Linked DNA regions of Homo sapiens. The protein of the gene in region 1 interacts with the protein of each later gene in a pairwise test. Each region holds a gene or a part of one and is shown on either strand. Other genes may lie near its edges.

Region 1 (8,756 bases):
CTGGTGTTGTTGGGGACTGAGGAGCTAGCTGTTCGGGGAGGAGGAAGCGTGTGTCACTGTGTGTATCTGTGTGAGGGCTGGGCCTTGGGTTTGGGAGTGAGGGGGCTTGTGGTGCACACTGGGGCTGCTTGTGGAGTTGGGGGTGGTTGTGCACAAGCTAAAAGGATGTGGGCGCATGCATGCACACAGACACACACACTCTGCCTCCTCCTCCTGGAACACAAACACATATGTTGGGGATACAATTTGCACACACATGTTACAGTTTCTCATAGTCCTTTTTCTCTGCCACACACATACACCAGGAGAGCTCACACAACCCTGAGTCTCTCCCCCACGGTATATCACACACATGTAATTACAGAGTCTCAGCCTCACACACACACAGGCCCACACAGAGCCCTGTGGGTTGTGGAGGTGGGTAGCCAGCCTCCACAGAATTTTTCCCTCTCCAGGGAAACTTCATCTCCTTCCTGGGGCACGCCCAGCAACCTCTCCTCTGGGTCCGACCCCAAAGACCAGAAGATTCCTGGTCCCCAGAGAAGGGGTCTCTCTCTCTCTCTCTCTCTCACACACACACACACACACACACACACACACACACACACACGAAGAGCATCTTTATAGTAAGTTTATTGTATTTTTATTTCAGCTCAGGGGAGCAGGGGTGGAGAGTGGGCACAAATGCAAAGTAAGCAAATGGGGAGCCCCAGCAGCAATAGGGGGGTCTTCCTGGAAGAGGCAGGCTTTAAAGACAGGAGGAGAAGGAAATAGGGAAAAGGAGTTGGGACTGAGGGAAGTGGTGAGGAAGGGTAGGAAGAGAGGGGATCCTGAGAGAAGTGGATCAAGAAGATTTGTAACCCTGATTTCCCTGTGTCCTGAATGGTCTGGAGGAGGGTAAGGGAGGGTGTGGGGCAGGCGCAGAGCCTGGCACAATCACCTTTGAGGTCCCTTAGAGGGTTCCCTCTCAGGCTAGCTACCCCCTCTCCCAGCAAAGCTCGCTTCCAGGAGGTTCTGCACAGGGTCAGTGACTGGTCACTGGGCATTCTCTCCTGCAGTGCCTGTGCTCCCAGCTTGCGCTCTGATTAGAAGAGCCAAAGGCTTTGTCCTCTGGTAACAGATTCTGCCACCAGCGGGGGATGAAGGAGGGATTTTAGACAGGGAGGCCTTCATCCCTGCTCGTAAATTCTCTGAGATGGACCCTTCCCATGGGTGCTGTGCTTCTGTGAACCCAAAAGTACACATTGAGTACCCACCACTAGCCACTGGTGAGAGCCGTGTGGCATTTGTCCCTGCATTCAAGAGGCAGCAGTGGAACTTGGGACAAGGGACCTGGGTTAGTCCCGACTCCAGCACTTGCTAGTCCGGCACTTGGTAATCAATCATCTAGCCTCTCTGAGCTCTGGTTCTGGTCTATAAACTGGAGATGATCATCTTAGTTCTGTCACTGCCAGCCTTGTAGGATTTTTCTAAGTCTCAAATAGACAGAGGATGTGAGACATCCCTTGAGGCCGTGTACATGGGGCTGTGTCCAGAGGGGCTGTTTGTGCAAGGTCAGGATGTGAGTCTGTGGTCCCACCCACATAGGGTGAGAAGCGGGCAGCATGGGGCAGGAGGTACTGGCTGCCAGAAACCTCTGGATCTGCATCCATCCTTGACTGGCTTGGCTGTGTGATTTTGTGCAAGTTCCTGCCCTCTGTGGTCCCAGGGTCCTGTCTTGTAAAAGAACAGTCCCATGCTCCATGCTTCCAGACACCCAGCCTCACCCTCCATGCCAGCCAGGGCTGGCCCTGAACACTCCCCTGGGATCCAAATGAGCAGTGGGGAGAGGGTCAGAGAGAAATAATGAGAGAAGGGCTAGGCTTGAAGGAAAAGGAAATGGCGTGGAGGACGGTGTGATTAAGCCTCTGGAAACTAGAGAGCAACACTCAACCAGTGAAGCCGGGGCCTAACCCAGGAGAAACAATGGCAAATTGTAGAGGAGGCGAACAGGAGGCCAGAGGCTGGGGATCTGCTACATTCATCTGGTCCGCAGGCAGGAAACGCGGGGCAGACACCTGGGGAGGCTGCAAGTGGGATCTGCCTGGCCTCGTGCCTCAAATGGGGCTACATGTCTTCTGAAACCGGCTGCAGGAACAAAGAAGAAGGGGAGCAGGTCTGTCCCCACTGCAACCCCTTTGCGTTCTAGCACCTCCAATGGCCTTTCCAGCGCAGCACAGCTCCAGTGGCTTTCCAGCAGGGCCTTTCCTGGCCTGCTGCTCCTTCAGCTCCATCCTCCCACTTCTGCCTCCTTCTAGCTCCTGGCCATCTTTTCCCACCCCTCTATCCTCTCCACCACACCCCTTTAGCCCCCATCTCCTCACCTCCACCCCTCCCAGCTCTTCCTCCTCAACTCCTTCCTCCTCTCCATCCTCCCTTCCTGCCCCCCTTTGCTCCCCTTCCTCCCCCTCCTCTCTAACTCCCTCCCCCTCCCCCTTTCCCCTCTCTCAACCCCTCCTCCCAGATCCTTACTGAGGACACTGGCAGGTCTTCTTCTCACTGAGGAGTCTCTTGATCTGAGACATCCGCTCTGCTTGGCGCTGTCCAGGGACAAGAAAGGGAGTCACGAGGGTCCCAGGCCTCCAGAAGGGAGGTGCCCCTTGGTGGGGGGAGTGGGGGAAGCTGCGACAGGAGAAGCAGTTACATGGCCCAGGCCATCTATCCTGGAATTAACTCTCTGCTCCTTCCTGTCTCTCCCTTGAGTGGGATCTGGGACAGGGCAGCAAGGGAACTTACGAGTGGGCAGAGGGAGCTGGGCCAAAATCAGTTCCCATATACAGGATCTCCTGGTAGAGGACTCAGGGGTTTGAGGGCCTTGTGGGGACCAGGTGTGGGGTTACTCACCCTTCGGTGCCGGCACCTGACACAGAAGAAGATGCCTAGCCCAATGAAAAGCAGGAGGCCGGCGACGCCCCCCAGCACAATCAGGGCCATTGGCTGCACCGGGGTGGACCATGTGGGCAGAACTGCAAGGGAGAGAAATGTGCTCAATGCACCGCCCTCCTCCACGGGCCAGGGGACTGAGGACTGCCCTGCAATCCCTCCTGGCCAGTCTCTGGTTTGACCCTGGGGTTGGGGGAGAGGGGAGGGGTGCCTGGGGGCTCTCAAAGGCCGCCAGTGCTGGGGAATCGGTTTTATGTTTGGGCATATCCATATCCAGGGCACTCTGGAGAGAGAGAAGCTGTGGTCTGGCTCCTGGGCTGTGTGTGTGAGTGCATGTGTGTGTGCATGTGTGAGTGTGTGCATGTGTGTGCGTGTGTGAATGGTGTGAATGTGTGTGTGTGCGCGCGTGTGCGCGTGTGAGTCCATGTGTGAATGTGTGTGCGTGTGTGCATGTGTGTGAATGTGTGCCTGTGTGCGTGTATGAATGTGTGTGCGTGACTGCATGCATGTGCGCGCGCGTGTGTGCACATGTGTGAATAATGCGTGTGCGGATGTGAGTGTATAAGTGTGTGAGTGTACGTGTACGACAGTGTGTGGGTGAGAGTATGTGCGTGAATGTGTAAGTGTGTGTGTGCATGCATGTGTGAGTACATGTGTGTGTATGAGTGTGTGACAGTGTGTGAGTGCATGGGTGTGAGTACATGGGGTGAGAGTGTGGGTGTGAGTGTGGATGTGTGTGTAGTGTGTGTATGAGTGTGTGCGAGTGTGTGAGTGATGTGTGTGCGTGTGTGAGAGTGTATGGGAGTGTGTGCATGTGTGTGAGAGTGTATGTGTGTGAGTGTGTGTGTAAGTGCGTCTGGATTTGGAGAAAAGCCAGGAGCCAGGGAGGGGGGCTCTCGGTCAGGTGGACCCCATCCCTAGGCTGTAGACCTGAGGGAGTGGGAACTTGTAGAATTACAACTGGCAGCCTAGAGCCCAGGACCACAACCCACCTCACTTCATCACTTCTATGCCTCCTTTTGGGGCCTCCAAAGCACCCTGGGACCACAGAGGACACCATACCCATAACCCCCCAACTCAGGCATTGGGAGGCCGGGACTCTGGGTGGTCTCTGCCAACCACAGGAAGGTCCCGCAGCCCAGGAGGCAGAGGCCTTGGAACCTGGGTCCTTACCCTTGATGTTGGATTCCAGCAGGACCTGTCCCGAGTCACTCAGCAGACACTGCCACATCCCCGCCTCAGGGTTCAGCACCCACACCGCCTTCTCCCGCTTCGAGACCTTTGCCTCCTTGTTCTCCAGTTTCAAACTCAGCATCAGCTTAGGGGAGGTGGGTCCCCACACCTCACAGGTCAAATTTTTCTGGAGCTGAGTGGCTGCAGAGGAACGAGAGGCTGAGATCAAAGGCCTGAGATTCAGTAGAACAATTAAAATGATACTCTATATGGGTGACCTTCTTTTAGCCTTTTAGAGCAGGTTTTCATGCAGTCCTACGAGGAAAAACAGCGTTTGGGGTCCAGTGGTATTGGATTTGAATCCCAGCTCCACTGCTTAGCAGCTGTGTGTCTCTGGGCAAGTGACTTAACAACCTGCACCCAGATAGTACTAAAGGCAGGCATACATGTAAAGTGTTTGGATGGGGCCCGACACGTGCTGAGCATCAAGTGTTAGCCATTACTATTTGCAGAGTCGTTATGATGATAAGGAGATAAGGAAGCCAGAAACTCAATTTGGAGCTTGACATTATCATCATTACTATCACACAGAGAGCAGATTTCATTATCCTTATTAGACAGGTCAGGAAGCAGGCCTGCAGTGGGAGGGGGCTTAGCCAGGGTCACAGAGGGTTGGTTATAGGAAGAACTGGAACCCTGGTTCTTAGCCCAAGTGCTTTGGGGATCTTCAGTGAAGCCAGCCCCAGGCTGGCTCATGGATGTCTCAGTTCAAAACCAGCCCCAAACCCAGAGGGCCCTCCCTCACTTCATCCAGGTGACCAGGGCCTAGGCATCCCCTCTTGGGGCCTGGCTTGCCTCAGAGGGAGCCCTGGGCCAGGCCCCTCCAACTCCTTCCCCTGCCCACCCCTCCCTGGCCTGGCCCCTCACCTCTCATCACCACCAGGTTCACTTCCTGATGCAACTTTCCTGTTTTCGCTTCAAGGGCCAGGGTGAGGTTTCCAGAGCCAGCATACTGAGGCAAGGCCTGGGGCAGGGTGAGGTGGAGCGGGAGCTTCTTGCCCATCTGGAGCTTAGGGTCCTGGGTAACCCGTTTTACAGACACTTCCTTGTTCTTCAGGTCAAAGGTGATCCAAGACTTGGAGGAGGAAGCCCTCTCCGCCTGCCACCACAGCTCGCCACTGCCCGTCAGCTTTTCAACTGTAAAGGCGAGTGGGAAGGAGAACTCCACCTGTTCCCCCTCTTTCTTATAGACTATGCTGGAGGCCTTCTGGAAAGCTGGAGGTGGGAAGGGAGAGACCCTGGGTGAGGAGATAGGAAGATGAGGGTGCACGAGTGGGGTTGGCATGTGGAGGCAGCAGGGAGATGGAAGGGGACCCGACGAGTCCAGACACCCACCTTGTCACTTCAGATACTTCAGTTCCTTCCTACCTCTCCAGCCTTCTCTCCCTTCTTCCACCCAGCATTTTCCTACAGCAGGCCACCTCCCTCCTCCCGGAAGCCATCACAGAGCAGCCCAGCCACAGGGGATCCTTGCTGTCCTTAGGATTCCTGGACCACAGAAGCCATTTGGCCTCCACTCCTTAGAGGCGTATTCATCACCCTTCACAAAATAACAGCGAACACTTAACTAGGGCTTACTCTGTGCCAGGCACCATTTTCAGTGCCTTACGTATATCAGTCCTCAACTTAATACGAGGTAGTCACTATGGCAGTTAACATCATCCCCATTTCACAGAGGCTGAAACCAAGGTGCAGAGAGGTTTAGTAACTCACCCAAGGTCACATGGTTGTGGCAGAACCAGGATTTCAATCAGCGTACATGCACTAAACTGGCACACTACCTTATGTCTACCTTAAGTCACATAAGCACCCAGGGGACAGGATCTGGGGTAGGACCTTGGTCTCCCCACAGTGGCCTGGCTTAGAGGTCCAGAGGTACAACATAGAACATCATCAGGGTTGGCTTACTGGTGTTAGTGTCCCTGAGTAAGTGGATTTGCCAACTTGGTAGGGGTGTGGAGCTGAGGCAACAAAGAAAGTAAGCTCCCTGACATTCCTCCTTTGGGGCCTCCAAAGGAGACTCGGGCCTCTAGCATCCTTACCTTCCCCAGCCTTTCCTTTCTCCATGTCCACCACACTGAGGGGTGGCTGCCAATCAGCCCCCTGAGGATGAGGGCCCCAGTGAGTCCTTCAAGACAGGCCTCAGCTCTAGGGGACCTAGTCTTCTCCACTCCTGACCTCCCAGCACCAGAACCAGAAACAGGGCAGTCAGAGCAGAGGGAGGGGCTGTCAGCCCCTGGGGCAGGGAGGAGACTGCGCGAAGAGGGGCTTCCCTTACCTAGCACCACGATGTCTATTTTGAACTCCACCTTCTTCTGGTTCTGCAAGACAGTGCATGTCCAGGTGCCACTATCCTGGAGCTCCAGCTGAGACACGGAGAGGGTCTTCCCCCCCTGTATGTTTTTACCCCTTGGACTCCTACATTGCACTGAGGGGCTACTACCAGGGGGGCTCTCCAAGGTCAGGGTCAGGCTCTGCCCCTGAAGCAGGTGGGTGTCAGAGTTGGCAGTCACTGTGGAGGGAAAGGCCAGCTGTGTCACACACATACCATCCCCAAGGAGAAGGGCAGACAACAGGAAACCAACAACATCTCTCCATTATCGCCGTCCCAACATCTCCTTCCTCCCAGCACCCAGCTGCGCACCCCCAGCCAAGATAGGGTTTCCCTCTCCCCTCCTCTCTCTCTTCTTTCCTCCTCTCCCCTCATCCTCTCTTCCCCAGTCTCTCTCCCTCCTTCCCTTGCCTCCTTCCCTTTTCTTTCCTTTTCCCAAGGCCTCTTCCCTCCTCCGCCCACCAGCATCCCTCACCTGATCAAGAAGGGTTTTAAGACATTTGGAGGCCAGTTTGACAGCCTGGTCCTCTTGGGGCTGCTGCGGTATCACCAGCTCAGGCTGGATTTGGTGCAGGGGTGGGAGTAGTGGGGAAGGGAACCAGGCAGGAGGTATCCTCATCCCCACCTGCCCCACTCACATCCGAACACTAGCAATTGCACCTCCTCCTTCTGGTCCTCCACTTCACAGATGTAAGTATCTGAGTCTTCTATCTTAAGATTCTTGATGATCAGGGGAAAGTTTCCTTGGTCCCAAAGGCTTCTTCTTGAGTCAGCGCGATCATTCAGCTTGGATGGACCTGGGAGCAGAAGACATATGGGGGGGGACTGAGGCGCCCTGGAGACAGGGCACCTCTGGCAAGAGAATGCCCACGGCTCTTCTGATATCAGTTGCTAATTTCCTGCAACATCTGCTCCTCGTTCTAATCAGAGAAACCCGGTCTGGCAAGGAGGTCTCATCATATCCATTTACCTGGCTGGGACAGTAGCTCACAAATACAAATAAAATCATATCCTTATTTGGAGAGCACCAACTCCTACATGCCAAATACTTTACAGGCATCATCTCAGTAATCTCCACAATAATTCCGAGAAATAGATACTGTCAACACTGTTTTGTTTATTTTGCAGATAGAGAAACTGAGACTCAGAGAGATTAGGTAACTGCCTAAACTCTCACATATTGAGATTAAGTAATTACCCAACTCTCACACATTGTAGGAGAATAAACCAGTACAATTTCTTTGGATGGTGATTTGTAATCTATACAGAATTACAAATGTATATACAAAACCAAATGTCCATCAATAAAGAATAGGTTAAATAGATCATAGCTCACCCATTCAGTGGACTGCTATGCAGCCGTAAGAGAGGAATGAGGAAGTGCTTTGTGTACTAATTTGGACCCGTATCTAAGAAACATCACTAACTGAATAAAGCGAGATGTTAAACAGTCTACTATTTGTTTTTAAAGGTGGAGAAAATATATTCTTTGTATATGAAAAGAATAATTCTCGAATTAAACATAAGAAAATGAGGCCATTAAAAAGAGCTATAATGTCTAAAAAAAAATTAAAAAAGAAAATGAGGCCAGGCATGGTGGAAATCTCTCATCCCAGCTCTTTGAAAGATCGAGGTGGAAAGATTGTTTGTGCCCAGGAGTTCGAGATCAGCCTGGGCAACATGGCGAAACCCCATCTCTAAAAAAAAAAAAAAAAAAATTTTTTTTAATTAGCCGCCTTGGGAGGCTGAGGTGGGAGAATCACTTGAGCCCAGAAGTCAAAGGTTGCAGTGAAACAAATGAGATGGCACCACTGCACTCCAGTCTAGGTGACAGAGTGAGACTCTGTCTCAAAAAAGAAAAAAAATTAACTGAGTGTGGTGGTGCATGCCAGTAGCCCCAGCTATGCCGGAGGCTGAGGTGGGAGGATAACCTGACCCAGGAGGTCGAGGCTGCAGTGAGCTATGATCATGCCACTGCACTCCACCCTGGGCGACAGAATGAGACCCCATTTAAAAGAAAAAAAAACTGGGAGGCTGAGGCACAAGATCGCTTGAGACTGGGAGGCAGAGTTTGCAGTGAGATCGCACCACTGCATTCCAGCCTTGGTGAGAGAGTGAGACTGTCCCAAAACACACACACACACACACACACACACACACACACACAAAAATAACCTTGGTTGCCTCTAGGAAGAGGAAGTGAATACTCATGTGTAGGAAGAAAGCTTTTCACTATATGCCCTTTGCTTTTTTTTTTTTGAGATGGAGT
Region 2 (8,756 bases), on another chromosome or scaffold:
TAATGATCCTGGTATCTCTGTAGAAAAAAAATGAACATCAGCTCTCACCTCTCAACAAACACAAAAATTAATTCAAAATGGATTCCAGACCTAAATACTAAAGCTATAATTTAAAAAATTCTAATCAAAGACATAGGAGAAAATGTGTAGCTTTAGCAAAGATTTCCTAGGGCACAAAAGCAAGAAACATAAAACTTTTTTGATGAATTGGAGTGCATAAAAATTGAATATTCCTGCTCTTTGGATGAGGCCACTAAGGAAATAAAAAAGCAATAAATAGTTTGTAAAAAATCAAAATTAATTTTTTCAACAACAGAAGTTTTTCCAGAATATACAGAGAGCTCTTTCAGCTGCAAAATAAGGACTAAAACAGCTCAATTGAAAATGGACAAACATTTTTAATATATACTTCACAAAAGAGGATACACAGGTGGTTAATAAGCACATTAAATGATGCTCAGCATCATTAGTTAACTGAGAAATACAAATTAAAACAACACTGAGATGATAATACTATACATCCATTAAAATGGCTAAACTTAAGAATACGGATACTACTAACTATTGGTCAGGATGTGCAGCCATGACCCAGGAATTTCACTCCAGGTATTTACCAAAGAGGAAACATGACAAAGCAGATGCATTCATAGTAGCCAAAACCTGGAAACAGCCCAAATGTGTATTCACTGTTGAATCCTAGGTAAAATGTGGTGTATCTTTACAATAACTACTGATAATTTTTTAAAATTCTAACTATGACACATGCAACTAAGTGAATGAATCTTCAGAACATTACATTGAGTGCAATATGTTAGGAGTGAAAAAGTACTTACTGTTTGTTTCATTTTATTTACATGCAATGGGTAAAAAGACAAACTTAATCTGTAGTTAACAGAAAGTTGATCAGAAGGTACGTGAGTCTGGTCAAAGGAGCTGAGTTGACTGGGAAGTACCACAGAAGGACATTTTGGGATCACAGAAATTTTCTTTATCTTGATTGTGGTGTTGGTTATGTGGATGTATACATTTGTTAAAAATGCATTAAACTGTATCTCAAATGGGTACATTTTAATGTAAATTTTACTTCAGACATTTTATTTAAACATTTATCAGTTTTTCTCAGTTTCAAATGACTAGTTACTGGAAGCAATGACAAGTGCTACTCAATGACTGCTAAATTTATTGGTGCTATGAATGCCAGATTTTTAGCACAGCAAAATCTACAAATTCCAGGATTTTTAGGTAGTATCTGGGCAAGAATATATATGAATAATGTATATGAAAGGAAGAGGGGGTTCTTAGATATCTTCAAGTCAGTGGAATGCTTAGGTTTCACAGTGCCAATCTGGTGTGACATTTACTTTGTTAAAGGAATTTACTCTAAAACAAATTAAATGAGCCCAGATGCATTTCTTTAAATTTTATTTTGAATTCATCATTTGTCAAAATATGGTTATCAATAATGCATGCTTATAATATGAAGAATGCTTTATCCATGTCTTATTTTTCATATTACATAACATTCTTATTCTTTTAACAGGTCCAGGAGAGCCTCAGATTATTTTTTGTAGAAGTGAAGCTGCACATCAAGGAGTAATTACCTGGAATCCCCCTCAAAGATCATTTCATAATTTTACCCTCTGTTATATAAAAGAGACAGGTAATTTGTGTAGAATTTAATTTCATCAGAAAAGAGAAATCAAGAATTTGAAAGTACTAGAAATTTTTATTGAGCCAGTGAGTCACAAAGCTCTCTGCTTAGAGACTGCATAGGCATAGTATACTCCCTGATCTTAGAATTGCTTCCACTCATTCAAAGCTTTCCAGCCCCAGAAATGACTAAAATCCAGAACATTCTAAATATTTGCTTGTCCTTCTTGGTCTTAGTTTAAATCTTTGTGCTCCAAAGCCTAGAGACAGAAAACCTCTGGATGACAACACTCATTTCTGTCTTGCAAGTATTATGTAAGTGATTTGACTCACTTTGAACTCATCATTCAGCCTCCTAAACAAACCAACAAACAAGCAAACCCCTTGTAAAACTTGTTTCAGCTAATAATACAGACAAAATGTTGGGTGAATAAAAATGAACATGGGCCCATGTAGCCGCTGGGGCCAGTTTGGTGTAATCTTGGGAGCATAGTTCTAAGTTTAGAATTAGACTTCTGCAGAAGTAATGCAATTAAAAAAAAAAAGAAGAAGAAAGAAATGTGCTATGACTAGTTCACTCATGAAATGTTCAAATGAGATGCTATTTAAGAGAACAAATATCTTCTGGACAATTTAAAGTATCTAAATTGTTTGTAGAAAGTAACATCAGTGGAGTATCTCAGAGCAGCCTCAATGCCTGGGATAGCCCTTTCTCTATTCTTTTATCCATAGGTTAAAATAGGAATGAAGTGAACCTCATAGAATTCTGTCACTCTGTGCTGTGGGGAAGGAACCAGACATACACTTCAAAACTTGAAAAGTGAAAGGCTATTTTTCTTCATTATGTTATTTTATATTTTAATGGCCTTTTCTTGCTAGTGTCTTTAGGTCTTAATAATCAGACTACTAAAGCAAAGTTAAATATGCATGTAGTTTTCAAATTAACATTCAAAGGCCAAGGAAAATAAATATATACTATATATTTGAGGTTATGATAAATTTAAAAGTTAAGTCTATGTGGAAGGAAAAATGGAAATTCCAGGAAGATAAAACAGCAGAGGTACTGTCTGCCTCATTGGACACCTCTTTTACAAACACTTTGTGTAGCTTCTATGGGAACACATTGTTCATTTTTTTTTTCTCTTCTCTGAATCTTCTATTCACTATCCCTTTCTGCATTCCTCAATGTCTACACTCTCTCTACTAGAGAGTATTGTCGATGTCAGAGTATATGGTAGACATTTTATGCATTTATGGCTCTTTTATATTTTTACAGTTTTTTTAAACTGTATTTCCACTGTATTTGCATAATTAGGGTAAAAAGGATGTAATGAGTTAGTAGCAACTCATTACAGCAACTAGCATGGGTCCTTCTTATTGGGCAACTAAATAGTGTTACCCAAATTTAACAGCTGTCCACATAGAACACTTAAACGGGATTGAATGGCTGAGAAGGGGAGGCTAGCTATCAGGCTGTGTGTTTTCTTTTCTCCAAAGCTGCCGATTGGTGACTGAATGCAGCTTTGGACCATGCCCTGACACTGCATAAAGGGCTCTTTGGAGCCAGCTCTACTCTAAACAGCGTGCTCCGCTTTTGTTTTCTCCTTCATCTCAAACATATACCTGTCTCCTCTCCCATGTTACCTAAGGCAAAGAGAGTTGATAGGATTATAGTATCGTTAAGGCAACTTAACTTTTCTCACCATTTTAAATAAAATTACTATTAAAAATCCACAGGAAGAAAGTCTATGAAATTTGCAGTTTACTTTTTAATCAGATATTAAATTTCACTTCATTACTTCACAATTTAATTTTTTCAGTGTCTCTAAAAGAGAGGGATTAAAAGAGGAGAAAAAATGCAATTGACATTAATTTAGTTTTATTGGTTTAGCAGGTTTTTTTAATTATGTATTATTTAAAGATTTTATCAACTATTTTAATAACTCAGTGGAGATGTGCATACATATCTTCATAGTTCATATGATGAAACTGAGGTTAACAGAAAATGTGATAGATGTTCAAGTTCAGTAGCTTGATCTGTTTCCTTTCTGCTCTTGGTTTTGTTTGTTTGTTTGTTTGAGAGGGAGTCTCCCTCTGTCGCCCAGGCTGGAGTGCAGTCATGCGATCTCGGCTCACTGCAAGCTCCGCCTCCCAGGTTCACGCCATTCTCCCGCCTCAGCCTCCCTAGTAGCTGGGACTACAGGCGCCCGCCACCACGCCCGGCTAATTTTTTTGTATTTTTAGTAGAGACGGGGTTTCACTGTGTTAGCCAGGATAGTCTGGATCTCCTGATCTCGTGTGATCCGATCCGCCCGCCTCGGCCTCCCAAAGTGTGTTTGTTTATTTTTCCTCACATTTTTAGCTTAAGATATTTTGGAGAACTGCAGTTTTATCTCGTTAACTTAATGATGGCAAGTGACAGTGAAGCTTCTTGGTAATTGGGGAATTGGGGAAGAGATCTTTTGTGCTTTATTGGATTTAAAGGATTATTTTTCAAAAGTTACTGAAAGCAATAGGCACCTTTCAAGACCACCATGATGTTGCTGGAAATTATTTTGTGTAATGCCTTTTATTTTTTTAAGAAAAAAAAAACAGAACAAATTGCTTAATCTCTCTGTGGCTCAGTTTTGTCATCTGTAAAATCAGATGATAGTGAGTACCAACTAATAGTTGCAGTGATGGTTAAATTAATTATTTCATGTATACCCCTTGAAACAGTGCTTGGCACATACAGTGAGTTATTATTTTTAAAAATCGTTATTGATATTATTATTACTGTTGCTGCTATCCAGAAACATGTTGCCACTCTAATCATCCTCTTTCCTGATGTCACTTGGCTACTCAAAAATAGCAGCAGCTGGTGATTTTTTTACTTAACAAGTGCTAAGTCTTCTGCCTGAGTGTGAAAACACACTTAGACACTGTCCTACCTCTCATATGCCTCCCCAGCCAGAGCTGTTGTCCTGATCAGGTTTGTCACTAAACTCAAAAACATTCCTTCTTCCGTTTGTAATATTTTCTTTTCTCCCTTACATGTATTCAGTTCCACTTACCTTTCAATGAACAGCTGAATTCCACTTCCGGCATGAAACTCCCTCATTCTCACAGCTCCCGTTAATTACTGTAGTGTCCAAATTACTATGATAGAATCAACCCAATGACTGATGATCAAATGGATTCTGCATCTAACATTCAAAACAGTAGCTAATACCGATGTTCAAAGTTTGGAGGTTACATATCAGAAAAGGTTTTCTAAAAAAGAATCATTCTGAAACATGCAACTCAAGACTTACAGTATACACTGGGGGCTGTGTTTTCTCAGAAACAAAAGAGATCGTCTTCACAAATGAATCTGAACTTATTAAATATTTTATGTACCAAATTAATGATATAAAACCATAATTTTTCAATATTTAATTTTACCAATGATAATTGAGTTTGTTCAATACACTGGCTGATAATTGTAGGTACTTTTGAGTATCAAGGATGTACTTATTTTTCAATCACTCAATAGTTTGGAGTTCACTTGGAACAATGTGATGTAGAGACCAAATTAATTAGGTACGTGGTAGTACTGACTTTTAACGACTTACTAATTTTTTTTCACATTTTTCCTCAGAAAAAGATTGCCTCAATCTGGATAAAAACCTGATCAAATATGATTTGCAAAATTTAAAACCTTATACGAAATATGTTTTATCATTACATGCCTACATCATTGCAAAAGTGCAACGTAATGGAAGTGCTGCAATGTGTCATTTCACAACTAAAAGTGCTCGTAAGTTATATGTTTTAATGCTTCTTTCCATAAATGGTAAAAAGCAAGGTATGAACTTTTTAGCCTACAATATTTCTATCTTTATTCTAGCAAGCACATTTACCTGGCACATTTGTTAACATCTAGGGCTTATAAACACGTAAAATCTAAAAGTTTAAAAACCGTTATCCTGGATTCTCTCTCTTCTTCAGATATAGTCATAGAATTTTAAGGACAAAGCATAAAAGCATCTTAATTGGCATCAGTTTGTGCAATTTCATGCAGTTAAGTACTTAACCAACTTAGATTAAAACATTCACTGTTTGCTGTTGTCTTTACTATCTGGAAATATTAATTGTAATCAGAAACCTAACAATGTCTCATAAAGCATTAGCCTACTAACCTCTGTTCATCTGATAAAACATTTCATAAAATGTAATATTTTATTAGCATTTTCTTCTCTTCGTTACCCTCAACTACTTACTATTCTATTTTATGTCACATTATCCATTTAAGGTTTCCTTTCAATGGCATTTGGCTCTTGCCACTAGTATAATCTCTCCATAGTTTCCAGGCCCAAAGTTAGATCTGCTTCTGGGGCACATGTTAACCTCCATCGAGGACAGGGAAGAAGAAATGCCGTGTTTTAAGGCAGCATCTATAGCTCCAGAGACCCTAACGGGCACTAGACTTGTGAAGAAATATTGTGCTATTTGGGGCTGAATATAAGACACTTTTAAGGTCATTTAGGTTTTGGTTTGAAAAGTTCTGGTCCTGGAGCTCTATGCTTTTGTTGTTTTCCTGAGTTTCTGTATCACAGAAAAAGAAGACAATTTGTTTCTGTTCCTGAAGAACCCATCTAGGTGTTTACCAGGATAACATTAGCACTCCGGGAAAGAAGGGTCTAGATTGTGTAATAGGACTTGGAGGTTTCCCAATCAACAACATTTTTCCTCTCCTCTCCCCAAACTTCCCCCTCTTCCCCACTCCCTTCCCTTTTTCTCTATTCTCTAATTCTACACAGTCTCCTTCAGGGATTGCAATAACTCTCATGGCTTCATGTACAACCTATATGCTAATACTTACTGAATAAATGAGTGATTTATTCTTCAGGGTTTTGATATTGTTTTTTAATTTATGTACTATCATAACTTCCTTATTTATAACCCCCAAGCTAACACTTAAAATACTTTATACTATATCCAAGTATTGTCAAGTAATTTACATATGCATCTATTAAATTATTAATAACAAATCTTTCTTCATTTTGATAGCTCCAAGCCAGGTCTGGAACATGACTGTCTCCATGACATCAGATAATAGTATGCATGTCAAGTGTAGGCCTCCCAGGGACCGTAATGGCCCCCATGAACGTTACCATTTGGAAGTTGAAGCTGGAAATACTCTGGTTAGAAATGAGTCGCATAAGAATTGCGATTTCCGTGTAAAAGATCTTCAATATTCAACAGACTACACTTTTAAGGTAAAAGTATGCTCTCTACATTACTATAGTACCAACTACATTATAATGATTGATTCATAGTACTTAAATAACTTTAAGACCACTGCTCACATGAGATTGAGAAGCTCTGATGTGTAATGGAATCACACTTAAAGAGTCTCAAATATTTGACTCTAAAATTTTTATTCCTATAGCTCAAGTCAGTGGTTTAAAGCAAATGTTTCATTGGAATATTTTAGAACTTCAATATGACTTAATTATAGCTAAATTATTGCTTCTGTGTTAAGAAGCACAACACTTTATGCACAACAGATTATTACTTTACCAAATCTACCTTTTCTTTACTTTGGCTTTTTATCTTTATTAATGTGGAATTTTTCAATTGCAAAATTTCACAGGTACCTTGAGGTTAGGAAATATTTGAAATAAACACTAGACAATACTAGTGAGCATACAGAATTTAAAACACTCATTATCTCACTGTCTACTGATCGTATTTTGTACATGTAACTTCATAATATACACATTTATATGCACTTAACACGTATTATCAACATTCTGAGTACACAGTTTTCAAAATACAGTTTTAAAACTGTATTTTTAATATATCACTATATCACACACACCTTTCTATGTTAAATATTTAACTACTATGTAGTTTTTAATGCCTGTATAATATTCTATGTATGGCTTTATCACATTCTATTAACTATAACTATGTTGGTCTCTAATATAAACAACATTCCGATAACACACTTATTGGTAAAGCAAAATTTTTGAATGTCTTTAATAATTTATGTTTCATAAATTCCTAAAAATGCATTTATTGGGTCAAAATGTATTTTGAGGCTTTTTGGATATGTAACTTTTTTTTTCTATAAAATTTACCAAATTGCCCTGGTGTATCAGTGTATGAAATGACTGCTTCTTGAGAGGCTCACCAACACTGAATACGCCTTTCTTTTTCTTTATTTGGTGGTTGAAATATGGTATTGATATCTTTCTTTTAATGAAGTTTCTTTACTTATTGTTCTTTGTGTTATTCTTTGCCTCTTTTATCCAGTTTTCTCCGGAGAAATGCCTTGAATATTAATGATATTAAACTCTTTGTCACATGCGTAAAAATGTTATCAGTTTATAATTTGCCTTTTAGTTTTCTTCACAGCACTTTGTCTTACATAATTCCCCTTTTTATTTTTAAACAAATGTATCTGTCACTTTTATTCCTGTTAAATAGAAATTTCCATAGTTAATTTTTTAATATGATGTTGACAAACGGCCTCATATTCTTTTTTTGTTTTGTTTTGTTTTGTTTTGTTTGTTTGTTTTGTTGTTGTTTTTTGTTTTGAGAGGGAGTCCTGCTCTGTCACCCAGGCTGGAGTGTGGTGGCGTGATCTCGGCTCACTGCAACCTCCGCCTCCCGGGTTCAAATGATTCTCCTGCCTCAGCCTCCTGAGTAGCTGGGATTACAGGCACCTGCCACCACACCTGGCAAATTTTTGTATTTTCAGTAGAGATAGGTTTTCACCATGTTGGCCAGGCTGGTCTGGAACTCCTGACCTCAAGTAATCCGCCTGCCTCAGCCTCCCAAATTGTTGGGATTACAGGTGTGAGCCACCGTGCCCGGCCCATATTCTTTATCACTTAAAGAAGTGTTTTCATATTTATAAACTTTTTGATTTTGTTTTTGAACTGGAAATGTCGGTTGGATTTTATCGATTTTTAGGGCATTATGATAGATGATGCCATAGTTGTGATGCCCTGGTGTGATTAGTTTAAATGATGCAAAACCATTGTCACATTCTAAGAGAAAAACCCCTGCTCTGTCATTGTGTGTTATTCTCTCAGAGTATTATTGAAATCAACAGCCTATTATTGTCTTTATTA

The links.
Region 2: the proteins of CD4 (region 1) and PTPRC come close enough for resonance energy transfer, tested with the Homo sapiens proteins (one study listed by BioGRID).

Annotation. Positions count from the first base shown.
Region 1 is NC_000012.12:6,812,670-6,821,425, reverse strand, and holds the end of CD4 (T-cell surface glycoprotein CD4 isoform 1 precursor), read right to left. Parts: intron 7,285-8,756; coding exon 7,126-7,284; exon of another isoform or gene 6,963-7,125; intron 6,668-6,962; coding exon 6,434-6,667; intron 5,696-6,433; exon of another isoform or gene 5,441-5,695; coding exon of another isoform or gene 5,371-5,440; coding exon 5,023-5,370; intron 4,297-5,022; coding exon 4,096-4,296; intron 3,006-4,095; coding exon 2,884-3,005; intron 2,580-2,883; coding exon 2,512-2,579; intron 2,128-2,511; coding exon 2,097-2,127; 3' UTR 627-2,096; downstream 1-626. UniProt on the Homo sapiens protein: Integral membrane glycoprotein that plays an essential role in the immune response and serves multiple functions in responses against both external and internal offenses.
Region 2 is NC_000001.11:198,711,413-198,720,168, forward strand, and holds part of PTPRC (receptor-type tyrosine-protein phosphatase C isoform 1 precursor), read left to right. Parts: intron 1-1,540; coding exon 1,541-1,660; intron 1,661-5,269; coding exon 5,270-5,428; intron 5,429-6,681; coding exon 6,682-6,890; intron 6,891-8,756. UniProt on the Homo sapiens protein: Protein tyrosine-protein phosphatase required for T-cell activation through the antigen receptor. Acts as a positive regulator of T-cell coactivation upon binding to DPP4.